2 separate regions of the Homo sapiens genome follow, and region 2 is linked to region 1. Evidence: fine-mapped expression QTL. A gene starts in region 1. The other region holds a variant in brackets. All regions are shown on one strand. Distances are from middle to middle. Region 1 holds the start of SEMG1 (semenogelin 1). Region 2 overlaps LOC105372630 (a long non-coding RNA gene).

Region 1 (5,387 bases):
TATATTTGAATCTTTTCTAAGTTGTAAAGTGATTTCCCATAGAATTGAGCAAAATACATTTAAGTCCTCCTGTTTTCTTCTTTTCCTATGAGTATAAAACTTTCAGATTTTTGTGCCAATTTAGTGCACTTTAATATTTTTGCATTTTTTATTTGTCCAACAGGACAAATCATTTGATCACTTAATCTTTTCCCCCATCATAATTCCATATCTAAGATGTATGCATCACCATACCATTTTTATGCTTTCCAAATCACTGATTTCTGATTTCAACTTTATCAATACATTCCTTTATCATTTGGAAATGTTTTTTTCCACATTTCATTGAATTCAATTCTAATATGAATATAGTAATCACATGTTTTGCTTGGATTGCATTTTCCTGGTTTGTTTTTGCAAATATTGTGCCCTTTTGTTTTATCTGCATCTTTTGGACACTAGATGAGATGAAAGTTTTGTTCTTGATCCATAAGTAAGATTAATATTTCAGACTCTATTTTGTATCAGTAAGTTTGGAACAGAACAGTTTCTGGTATTTTCTTAAGGGAAGTGTGAGGAAGATTACAGTGGTTAGCAGACACAGTAATCAATTTTAGTTCAGAACAATATCACCTTACTCTGTTGGGGTTTCTGCAATAAGGAACTACTTACTGCCTTTGAGGCAAACAGATAAATTTGGTAAGATCTCAGAGTGGCTCATAGAGAAACCATGCAGCTCACATGATTTATGTTTGATAGCATAGCACTTTTTTTCTGTGGTTGGCCTTTCTCTTTTCCCCTTCCATAGAGCATTGCCTACAGGAAGGTTAAGATTCTAAGACAGAATAATTGAAAATAAGTTTTCAAGCTATCCTTTCCCCAGCACTACCCTCCAAGGTGTTCTGAATGTACACAGGGACACTGTTGGGATGCTTTCTTCTTCTCCTGTGGTCTGCTCATAACGAAGTCTTTATGACTCAAAGTAAAGAAAGTTTCTTCAGACTTTTCAGGATGTCATCACAATTGGAAAAATCTATGCTTCTACCAAAGGTGGGAATTTTAGCTTCATGTCCACTCACAATACATTATTCAATTCATTGATGGTGGCAAATATTTCTCACAGCCTGTTTGGGGATTCAGCTGTTTACTACTGAAGTAGAAACTTCTCTTAATTAAAAAGAAAATTCTGCTGTTTAGGTAGATTTCATGAAAAGAACCCAATCTAGAAACCAGCATTTTTACTTTTTTTCCAACAGTTGTTCCTATCACCATGAAAGCATATTAAAATTCTTTCATCCTTTGAAAACACATCTGGAACTTACCTCACCCTCCAGATACAGCCTCAGCTCTCACTCCACCATGAATTCAGACTTCCTGAGAAGGTTGCAGCTGGTCTCCATCCTTCAACTGACAACCCAATGCAATTGTATTCATCTCTCATTAAAGTTACTAGCAACAACTAAGAAAAACTTTGGATACATGTCAGTCTTTATTGTGTTGAACTTGACAGACATATTTGACATTGGAGTGCCCCATTTACTTGTTTAAAATTTCTTTCTTTGGATTCCATAACGTTTCATTATCTTCTATATCATTGGACTTCTATGATTGCTCATTCTTAGGTAAAATAGAACGTGTCTCAAGATCATTTTTAAAACAAAAGGAAGTATGGAGTTCTATCTAAAATAGAGTATTTAAATTATTGCATCATGAAGGGAAACTCACATTTAGAATATAAAGGCATTCTCAGAAACCAATTGCTTTTGTAGCCTGAAGCCAGTCTCTTTCCTACTTTTGTCTATAATTCTGTAAAATTAAAGTGATCTGGCATGATGATCTAAAAGGACTGATAAAAATTTGCTGGGGCTGCCAGAAGAAAGAAAATGCCTTTGACATTATGTTGCTGGGGACATTGACTTTGTCCCACACTCAGCAGGGGTGAGGAAGTTGGCATTTACTGATAAGCTAAGAAAAGTCAGTGCCTTTTGTAATTTAAGCTCCACCCATGGCACACTCACTCAAGGAAGATATAAATGACAAGGTCGGCTCAGCTCTCAGACAAGGTTTTCCAAGCAAGATGAAGCCCAACATCATCTTTGTACTTTCCCTGCTCCTCATCTTGGAGAAGCAAGCAGCTGTGATGGGACAAAAAGGTGAGTGGAGAGGGTAAGCCTTGGGGAAAGCTGCTCAGACAGCTAATAATCTAAGATTATTTGGGGTGCAAACAGTAACCTGTTTAGGCACAGATTCTTCTCTTTGAAGAGAATTGATTTTCTCCACCCAAAGCTTCAGCTTTTCTAGAAATATCAATAATTTGTTGGGGGAAAAGTGGGGGGTAAGAGTTGTAAGGGAGCTTTGGAGATAATGAATGCATACCTTCTTATTATCAATTACCAGGTGGATCAAAAGGCCGATTACCAAGTGAATTTTCCCAATTTCCACACGGACAAAAGGGCCAGCACTATTCTGGACAAAAAGGCAAGCAACAAACTGAATCCAAAGGCAGTTTTTCTATTCAATACACATATCATGTAGATGCCAATGATCATGACCAGTCCCGAAAAAGTCAGCAATATGATTTGAATGCCCTACATAAGACGACAAAATCACAACGACATCTAGGTGGAAGTCAACAACTGCTCCATAATAAACAAGAAGGCAGAGACCATGATAAATCAAAAGGTCATTTTCACAGGGTAGTTATACACCATAAAGGAGGCAAAGCTCATCGTGGGACACAAAATCCTTCTCAAGATCAGGGGAATAGCCCATCTGGAAAGGGAATATCCAGTCAATATTCAAACACAGAAGAAAGGCTGTGGGTTCATGGACTAAGTAAAGAACAAACTTCCGTCTCTGGTGCACAAAAAGGTAGAAAACAAGGCGGATCCCAAAGCAGTTATGTTCTCCAAACTGAAGAGCTAGTAGCTAACAAACAACAACGTGAGACTAAAAATTCTCATCAAAATAAAGGGCATTACCAAAATGTGGTTGAAGTGAGAGAGGAACATTCAAGTAAAGTACAAACCTCACTCTGTCCTGCGCACCAAGACAAACTCCAACATGGATCCAAAGACATTTTTTCTACCCAAGATGAGCTCCTAGTATATAACAAGAATCAACACCAGACAAAAAATCTCAATCAAGATCAACAGCATGGCCGAAAGGCAAATAAAATATCATACCAATCTTCAAGTACAGAAGAAAGACGACTCCACTATGGAGAAAATGGTGTGCAGAAAGATGTATCCCAAAGCAGTATTTATAGCCAAACTGAAGAGAAAGCACAGGGCAAGTCTCAAAAACAGATAACAATTCCCAGTCAAGAGCAAGAGCATAGCCAAAAGGCAAATAAAATATCATACCAATCTTCAAGTACGGAAGAAAGACGACTCCACTATGGAGAAAATGGTGTGCAGAAAGATGTATCCCAACGCAGTATTTATAGCCAAACTGAAAAGCTAGTAGCAGGCAAGTCTCAAATCCAGGCACCAAATCCTAAGCAAGAGCCATGGCATGGTGAAAATGCAAAAGGAGAGTCTGGCCAATCTACAAATAGAGAACAAGACCTACTCAGTCATGAACAAAAAGGCAGACACCAACATGGATCTCATGGGGGATTGGATATTGTAATTATAGAGCAGGAAGATGACAGTGATCGTCATTTGGCACAACATCTTAACAACGACCGAAACCCATTATTTACATAAACCTACCATTCGGTAACCATGTGAAAGGATGGACCAATATCAAGGTAATTTTTTTTTAGCAAATAGGGGAGATATCTCTCTCATTGTTTAGAATTGTTGGGGACTCTCCAGGACTTTTGTGGGATTGATAACCATTGTTCGCACCAATAGAAGTGCTGTATAACAAGTGGTAGGAAGATGAGCCTCCCCATTCCCTGGTGAGGAGAGGGTCTGGTAGTGGCACAGAAGGATGTTTGGCCTATCATGAGGTCCTAGAATTCCTATCCTTAATTGAATATTCTTCAATAATATTTTTTTGTATATGCCTACCTGCTAAAGGTTTTTTTGAACAGGTACTGACTACATATGCATATTTATAAGTTTATGGTATACTCTTGTCAGTTCTTATACTTTAGATTAGTAAACCTCAGTTTCTTTCCTATATAGTATAAAGGATTACAGCCATTAATGTTTTCTTTCTGCACACCAGTGAATGTTCTTGCATCCCTGTTAGGGTTCATCTATGCTCCTTCAGAGACCACAAGCCCAAAGACTATCAGTCCTCCCTCTCAGAATACAGGAAAGAGATATGTAGAAAGATCCTTGTTCATGTTGTGAAAGAGAAGATGGAAAGGGAGACACAAGAGATGGTGAGGGATCTCATGGGCCAATTGGGTGTTTACAACATCAGGAGAAGAAAACTGAAGCCCTGAGAGGGGTAATGGTGCTTCCCTGCCTCTTTGCAGTAAGTAACACTGCACTTGAAGAGAGGGCAAGCAGTAGAAACAGTGGCCCCAGCTGGCAACTAGTGGCCTGGTATCCTAGTAGTAGAGGGCTGGTACAGTTGGAGCTGAAGGGGACAGGGGGCCCAGCTACCATCCCCACCCTTCACTTTTTACTATACTCACATCACTGATTCTCTTCTTTCTCTCTAGGTGTCAGTTGACCTCAGTGAATTCTGTGATGTTTCTGAGATGCAGACTCCCGTGTAGTTTCAGATTCTTGGTCCATGGATGACACCACCTGCCCATGCTTCCTTGAATTAGGCTTTCCTAACCTGAAGCGCCTTCAAACTTCCAATAAAGAGATCATTTTCTGCTTCATCTGCTTTTGACTCCTGTTTTCTCTGGATTCCTAGTGGCTCAAGGGGTTGAGGGCATTTCTAATGTAAGTGGTTTTGAAAGAAAATAAAGGGATATTTTTGAAGCACTAGGGAGAATAGTAATCAAAGCCACATTTCAAGATATATTGATAGAAACCAACACTAAAAATAGGGTGCTGTTAGTCTACCAGTCACATGTCTACCACCTGAGGCCAACACTAAAGGCTTTCATGACCCTGGTACTAATAAGACCCCAGGAACTAAAAATATCCCAGAAAGACAAGAGAAAATGTATTGCAACAGGCCCTGGGAAAGTCCCTGATCTGCTGGTGATCAATTCCACAGTAGCACATCCCTTCAATTAGCTTAAGAATGTCTTACGCCTACAGTATCCATTGAGATGCAATTACACCAAAGGTGATATGTTAAATCTGCACAACTTCAGTAACAGCAAGTGGGTTAAAATGTCACCTGTGGATGGAAAGACCAGATGACCAGTCAAAGGAATCTTGAGGCAGGTGGTGTCTTCATAATGGAAATACTGCTGCCTATACTGCCTTTTCCCCCTCTATTTTAAAAAAGTTTCCAGAGAAATCTAAACCTTCAGGAGAAGAGGC
Region 2 (5,387 bases), 65 kb after region 1:
CGAGCGTGGTAGTGTGCACCTGTAGTCCCAGCTACTCCAGAGGCTGAGGTGAGAGGGTCACCTGAGCCCAGGAGGTGGAGGTCACAGTGAGCCAAGATTGTGCCGCTGCACTCCAGCCTGGGTGACAGAGTGAGACCCCACCTCAAAAATACAAATACAAATAAAAATTTTTATCTCCTATTACTTCTCTAAATATCCTCCTCTCTCTTTTCCCTCATTCTAAAACTTGAATTGGGTGCGTTTACACACTCTTATTTTTTCCATATCCATCTGTTCTTGATTCATATCTACCTGGTTTTATTTCCTAATGTCTTTTATGGATGTTAAGAAAACATGGGTGGATGGATGTTTATGGAACCTCTTCTCTTTTTATGGATCTTATTCCTTTTATCCCCCTAAAAGTCTTAAAATTCTTATTTCAAGGTGATTTTGGGGATTAGGCTGTTACTTACATTTTGTCTCGAGTGACAATTGTTAAGTTTGTTGCTGTTTCAAGAGGTCCCTAATCAAAATGCCTTTTATAATCCTGGAACCTCCCAACACTAACAACTATTTTTCTCAGTATTGGTTTAAAAGTGAAATTAAATTGAGTATCACAATTAAGCAAGTTATACCAAGATTGGTGTACATTTCTCAGAAACAAAATTTATGTGTTGCAACAAACAGGACATGAAGTGATTACAAAGTACCTGTGAGAAGTTTCTCTCTATGGAAACATTGTGCCAGCTGGCTGTTTTGTTTAGTTTCAAAGCACGGTAGGACGTGCCTATGGAACCTGCCTCAAGGGAAGCAGTGGAATTAACATAGGTTTTACTACAGCCAATCATTTGTGCATCAAGAGAGATCGGGAAAGACAAAAGAACACTTCCTTTCTTAAAAATAAAATTATAGCTGGGTGGGGTGGCTCATGCCTGTAATCCCAGCACTTTGGGAGGCTAAGGCAGGCAGATTGCTTGAGTCCAGGAGTTCAAGATCATCCTGGCAAAACCACTGCACTTTGGGCAACAGAGCAAGACTCTGTCTCAAAATAAATAAATAAAGTTATGATAAAAACCTTCTATGCTCCTTCCCACCATTACTATCCTACTATTACTAGGACTGGAATCAATGTGGTGATGGCTGAATAGTGTTTTGGAAACAGACTTTAGGGCAACAGAAAAACCATTTGATTGGTTTCTAGGTATCTTGGTTTTCTAAAACTTCAGCCTTGTGGCTTGTATTAAATTAACCAAAATTAGCTCTAACTCAGGAAAAGGTTATCCCTTGGTTTTGTCAACTGTCTGAAATAGCTTGCTTTCCCAGCATTATTTTTATGCATATACTTTCCTATTTTTGTTGGCAGACTTACCTAATGGAAGGTTTTTGTTTCCCTTCTCTGTGCCCAGTCTTCCTGGTCCACCTACAATTTTGTGGTCACCTCCGTCTAGTCCCCAAGTACCCTCTGGGTCAGAATCAGGTTTTATATTAGTAGCTCAGAGCCATCCTGACCTGGTTCTTGGTTCTAAATCCCAAAACCATAGTGTGTTAGCACTGGAAGGCGTCTCGAAGATCATCTAGGCCAAATCAACCATTTCTCAGCAGAAGAAAACTGAGACTTGAGAGGAGGAGCCCTGCTCAAGTCACCTGCCAGGTAGAGTTACCCCCATGGGCACTCCCTGGGGCCTGTTCCCTGCTGCCACATGCCTCTTGACTCAATCTGGCTTCTCGAATCCAACTGAGCCTTCTCCAGCCAGCATCCAATACTTCTTCCTAACTCTTGTTTACTCATTCAATCCCTCACAAATGCCTACTGGGAATACAAATGTGAATAAGAAACACATAGACACAATTACGACTAAGAGGTAAACTGTGGGATTAGCATGACCTGAGTTCAAAGACTAGCTCGACAATTTGTTTCCTGTGTGATCTTGGGCAAGTGAAGAGACTTCTGCTGTTTTCATTAACCTATGTGAAGCAGACTTATTCATGCATTCCTAGGGTTACTGGGACAAGTAAATGGCAGAACAATCATCAAGCACCCAGCTCAGTGTCTGGCTTGCAGTAAGTCTAAAAGAGTGGTTATTATTATTATCATTACAATGTCCTTCCTGCCAGGTTGGATCTCAGAGGGGATGTCAGTCTCTTCTGTCACTTCAGACACTCATCTCTGGGGAGATCTAGTTCAGACTAGTTGACCACTAGCCCAACCTGGTTCTGTCTCCTCTGTCTAAGACTGCAGTTCCCTCTCCACTGCCTTAGCTTTGCTATCTTTAGCTTTGGCTGGAGTCCCTCTACTCTGTGCACCATTCTCTCTGAATGGAAGCTCAGAGACAAGAATTCTTGGGAACTTGTTTCTGATTCAATGCATAATCTTGAATGGCTTGGGAGGGGTAAGGTATTGCCCTTCCCAAGCCTTAATTTTCCCATCTGTATAAAGAGTGTGCTGGGTTGTGTTAAGTCAAGGTGAAGACCCCTCCTAGCACTGACACTCCTGGGCCTCCAGGAAATGCCATGCTTTCTCCATCCCCCCAGCCCCAGTAGAGGTGAACCCTTAGCCAGCTCCCACCTCCAAGCAGGTTTCTTTGGGAAGGGCAGGGGTTTCTTTCTTAGATGGGGCCATTCTGGCTGTCCCGATTCCACTCTGAGGCCTTATTTCTCTGTCAGGGCTTCTTTATCTGAGGTCCTTAGATCCCTTCTGGGATCCATAAATCCCAGGAAATGATATGCCACTGTCATGTGCATTTTTCAGAGGTGTGAGTTCATCAGCTTCTCAAAATGGCTTAGATCCCAAAAAGATTAAGACCCATTGCTGGAAGTCTAGTTCATGCCTCTATCACTTAAATTCTGATTTCCTTGTCTGTTGGATGCTCCTCTGATGTTCCCCAACCTTCTCCTTTTTTCTACATTACATCTACCTGTTAATCTGTATCTTCCTGCACTGGACTGAGAGCCCTTTGAGAGTAGGGACTGTATCAATCTTTTTCACCTCTGTATTCATAGCAAAATAACACA[T/C]ACCCAGTACTCAATAACTAGGGATGCTAGCTCTATGAATGTAGGAACCTTTGTGTTTGGTTCATATCTTTGTCTTAGATGCAAGGCATAGGACCTGACACATAGTCAGTGCTCAATAAACATCAGATGCAGAAAATAACTTGTGGAATGAACAAGTGAATGCATTCAGAAAGAAGCCACTTCACTCTCCAACTTTGCCCATCCCTGGGGCCCCTAAACCGTGTCTGGACATTTATGGTTTTCTTTGTTCTTAATTAGAAAAGGTCCTTTAAAAATGCGAACTTATACCAAGCTGGGATAAAGGCACTGGCATATCACCCCCAGTCTGGGGTCAGGCAACTGGGTTGGTGGCCAGATGCCCTCATGGTAGTGTTGGCCACAGTGAAAAAAAAACTCTGCTAAGCTGGATGACAAAGAAAAAGATTGGGAAATTAGGAAAAATAAGGAAAGATCAGATCATTCAAATCCTCCCTGATAATCAATGGGTGACAGATGACAGATGGGACTGCAACATCTCCTACACAGATGACAACTGTGTGGTCCAACCATTCCCCAGCTGGGGTTTTCCCACCTAAACCATTCCTGACTTGTACTTGTTAAATGTCCCCCCGCCCCCAATGATTTCCCAGAATAAAATTCTATGTAGGCTGGTAAGAGGGTGCTTCTCCTCAGTGATGAAATCCCTACAGAGGGGAGCTTGAGGTCTCAGGGAAGATGAGACCTGGAATCTGAGGCAAAGGCAGAAAAGGTTTGTGTTAAAAGATAGGGAAATAGACTGATAATGGGAGAGCTTGAATGACTTCCACCAACAGTCACCCCAGAAATGATTTTTATCAGAGACATACCGGGGCATTTCTGGCAATCTCTCAAGGGCTTAGAGGAAGGCATCCCATTTATCAAATTGCTAATGAAGGAAGCTGCAATCTGTCATGAGGAATTGAAGTTTGGAGCTCTGACAAGACCTTGAAAAAAAGAACATTGGAGATTAAGTGTCTGTCAACCAGAGCTGAACACTATCCACAAGAGAGGCCTGGGACCAGAGGGGGATTCTCTAAACTATTAAACCTTAAAGCATGAATCATTTTTAGTTCTATCATACATATAATTTACATTTAATAAAATGCACAGGTTTCAAATGTACTAGTTGATGTGTTTTAATAAATGTATACACACATGTAACCACTGCCCCAGCAAGATACAGAATATTTCCATCACTCCGGAATATTTTCTTTGTGTTCCTTTATAATCAACTTTGCTACCCGCTAGGGAATAAATCCCTGCCCTAGGCAGCCACTGATCTGCTTTCTTTCACTATTGATTAGTTTTGCGTGTTCTAGAATGTCAGATATATGGAATTATATTGTATGTAATCTTTTGTCTAGTTTTTTTGGTTAAACATAATGTTTTTGAGATTCATCCACGTTGTTGCCTGTGTTGACAACCTGTTCCTTTTTATTGCTAAGTAATATTCCATTATATGAATATCCACAATCTTTTTATCCATTCTTCTATTGACAGGCATTTGGATTTTTTCTAGTTTGGGGCTATTATGAATAGAGCATTTTTAAATATTCTTTTCAAATCTTTATATGGACATATGCTTTCATTTTTCTTGAGTAAATGCCTAGGAGTAAAATTGCAAGTCATAGGGTAGATGTATATTTAACTTCATCATAAACTACCAAAATTTTCCAAAGTGGTTGTACCATTTTGAATTTCCAGCAGCAATGCATATGAATTCTAGTTGCTTCACATCCTCACCATCACTTAATATTGTCAGTCCATTTTGTCTTAGCCACTTTAGTGGATACAAAGTAATATCTCATTGTGGATTACATTTGCATTTTCTGGTAATTAACAATGTTAAGCATCTTTTCATGTGCCGATAATGACCATTCATGTATCTTCTTTTGTGAAATAGCTATTTAAGTCTTTGGCCCTTTTTTGTTTTTTGTCTTCGTGTGACTGAGTCATAGGTGCTCTTTATATATCTATATTCTGTTAATATACACATATCCTTTGCACAATGTAATCATCCGTTGTCAGGTACATGTATTGTGAATATTTTCTCCAAGTCCTAGTGACTGACTTTCATTTGCTTAATAGTTTTTTTTTTGAAGTGCAGAAGTTTTAAATCTAAAAATCAATGGCAGCCTGAAAAAATAACAGCTCCTGAGGCCATCCAACTGGCTGTCTGCCCCAGGTACAAAAAGAAGATAAGACTCTGTCGTCAGAGTGAGCTGAGGTCCAATTCCACATGCTATCTCTCATTTAACTCTCACAGTAAATTTTATGAATTAGTTAGTTTTATGGTCTCGTTATACAAATAAGAAAACTGAGGTGTAGGGATGTGTTCCTATGTCACAGTCTAAGAGATATTTCAGACTTGAGGAAAA

Evidence for each region. PIP is the estimated chance that this variant, and not a neighbour inherited with it, causes the effect. A credible set is the group of variants that fine-mapping cannot tell apart.
Region 2: its variant is the best candidate, but not a certain one, in a credible set for the expression of SEMG1 in whole blood (TOPMed, PIP 0.86).

The regions. Positions count from the first base shown.
Region 1 is chr20:45,204,998-45,210,384 of GRCh38, forward strand. It overlaps SEMG1 (semenogelin 1), which reads left to right and starts at 2,036. Exons shown (of 3, transcript NM_003007.5): 1 at 2,036-2,132; 2 at 2,377-3,733; 3 at 4,604-4,771. The coding sequence starts at 2,057. The coding sequence ends at 3,689.
Region 2 is chr20:45,270,337-45,275,723 of GRCh38, forward strand. All of the region lies in intron 2 of LOC105372630 (a long non-coding RNA gene), which reads left to right. Among named protein-coding and RNA genes, the nearest start is that of SLPI, 18 kb to the left of the region's middle. The variant T/C (reference allele first, on the strand shown) is at 2,992.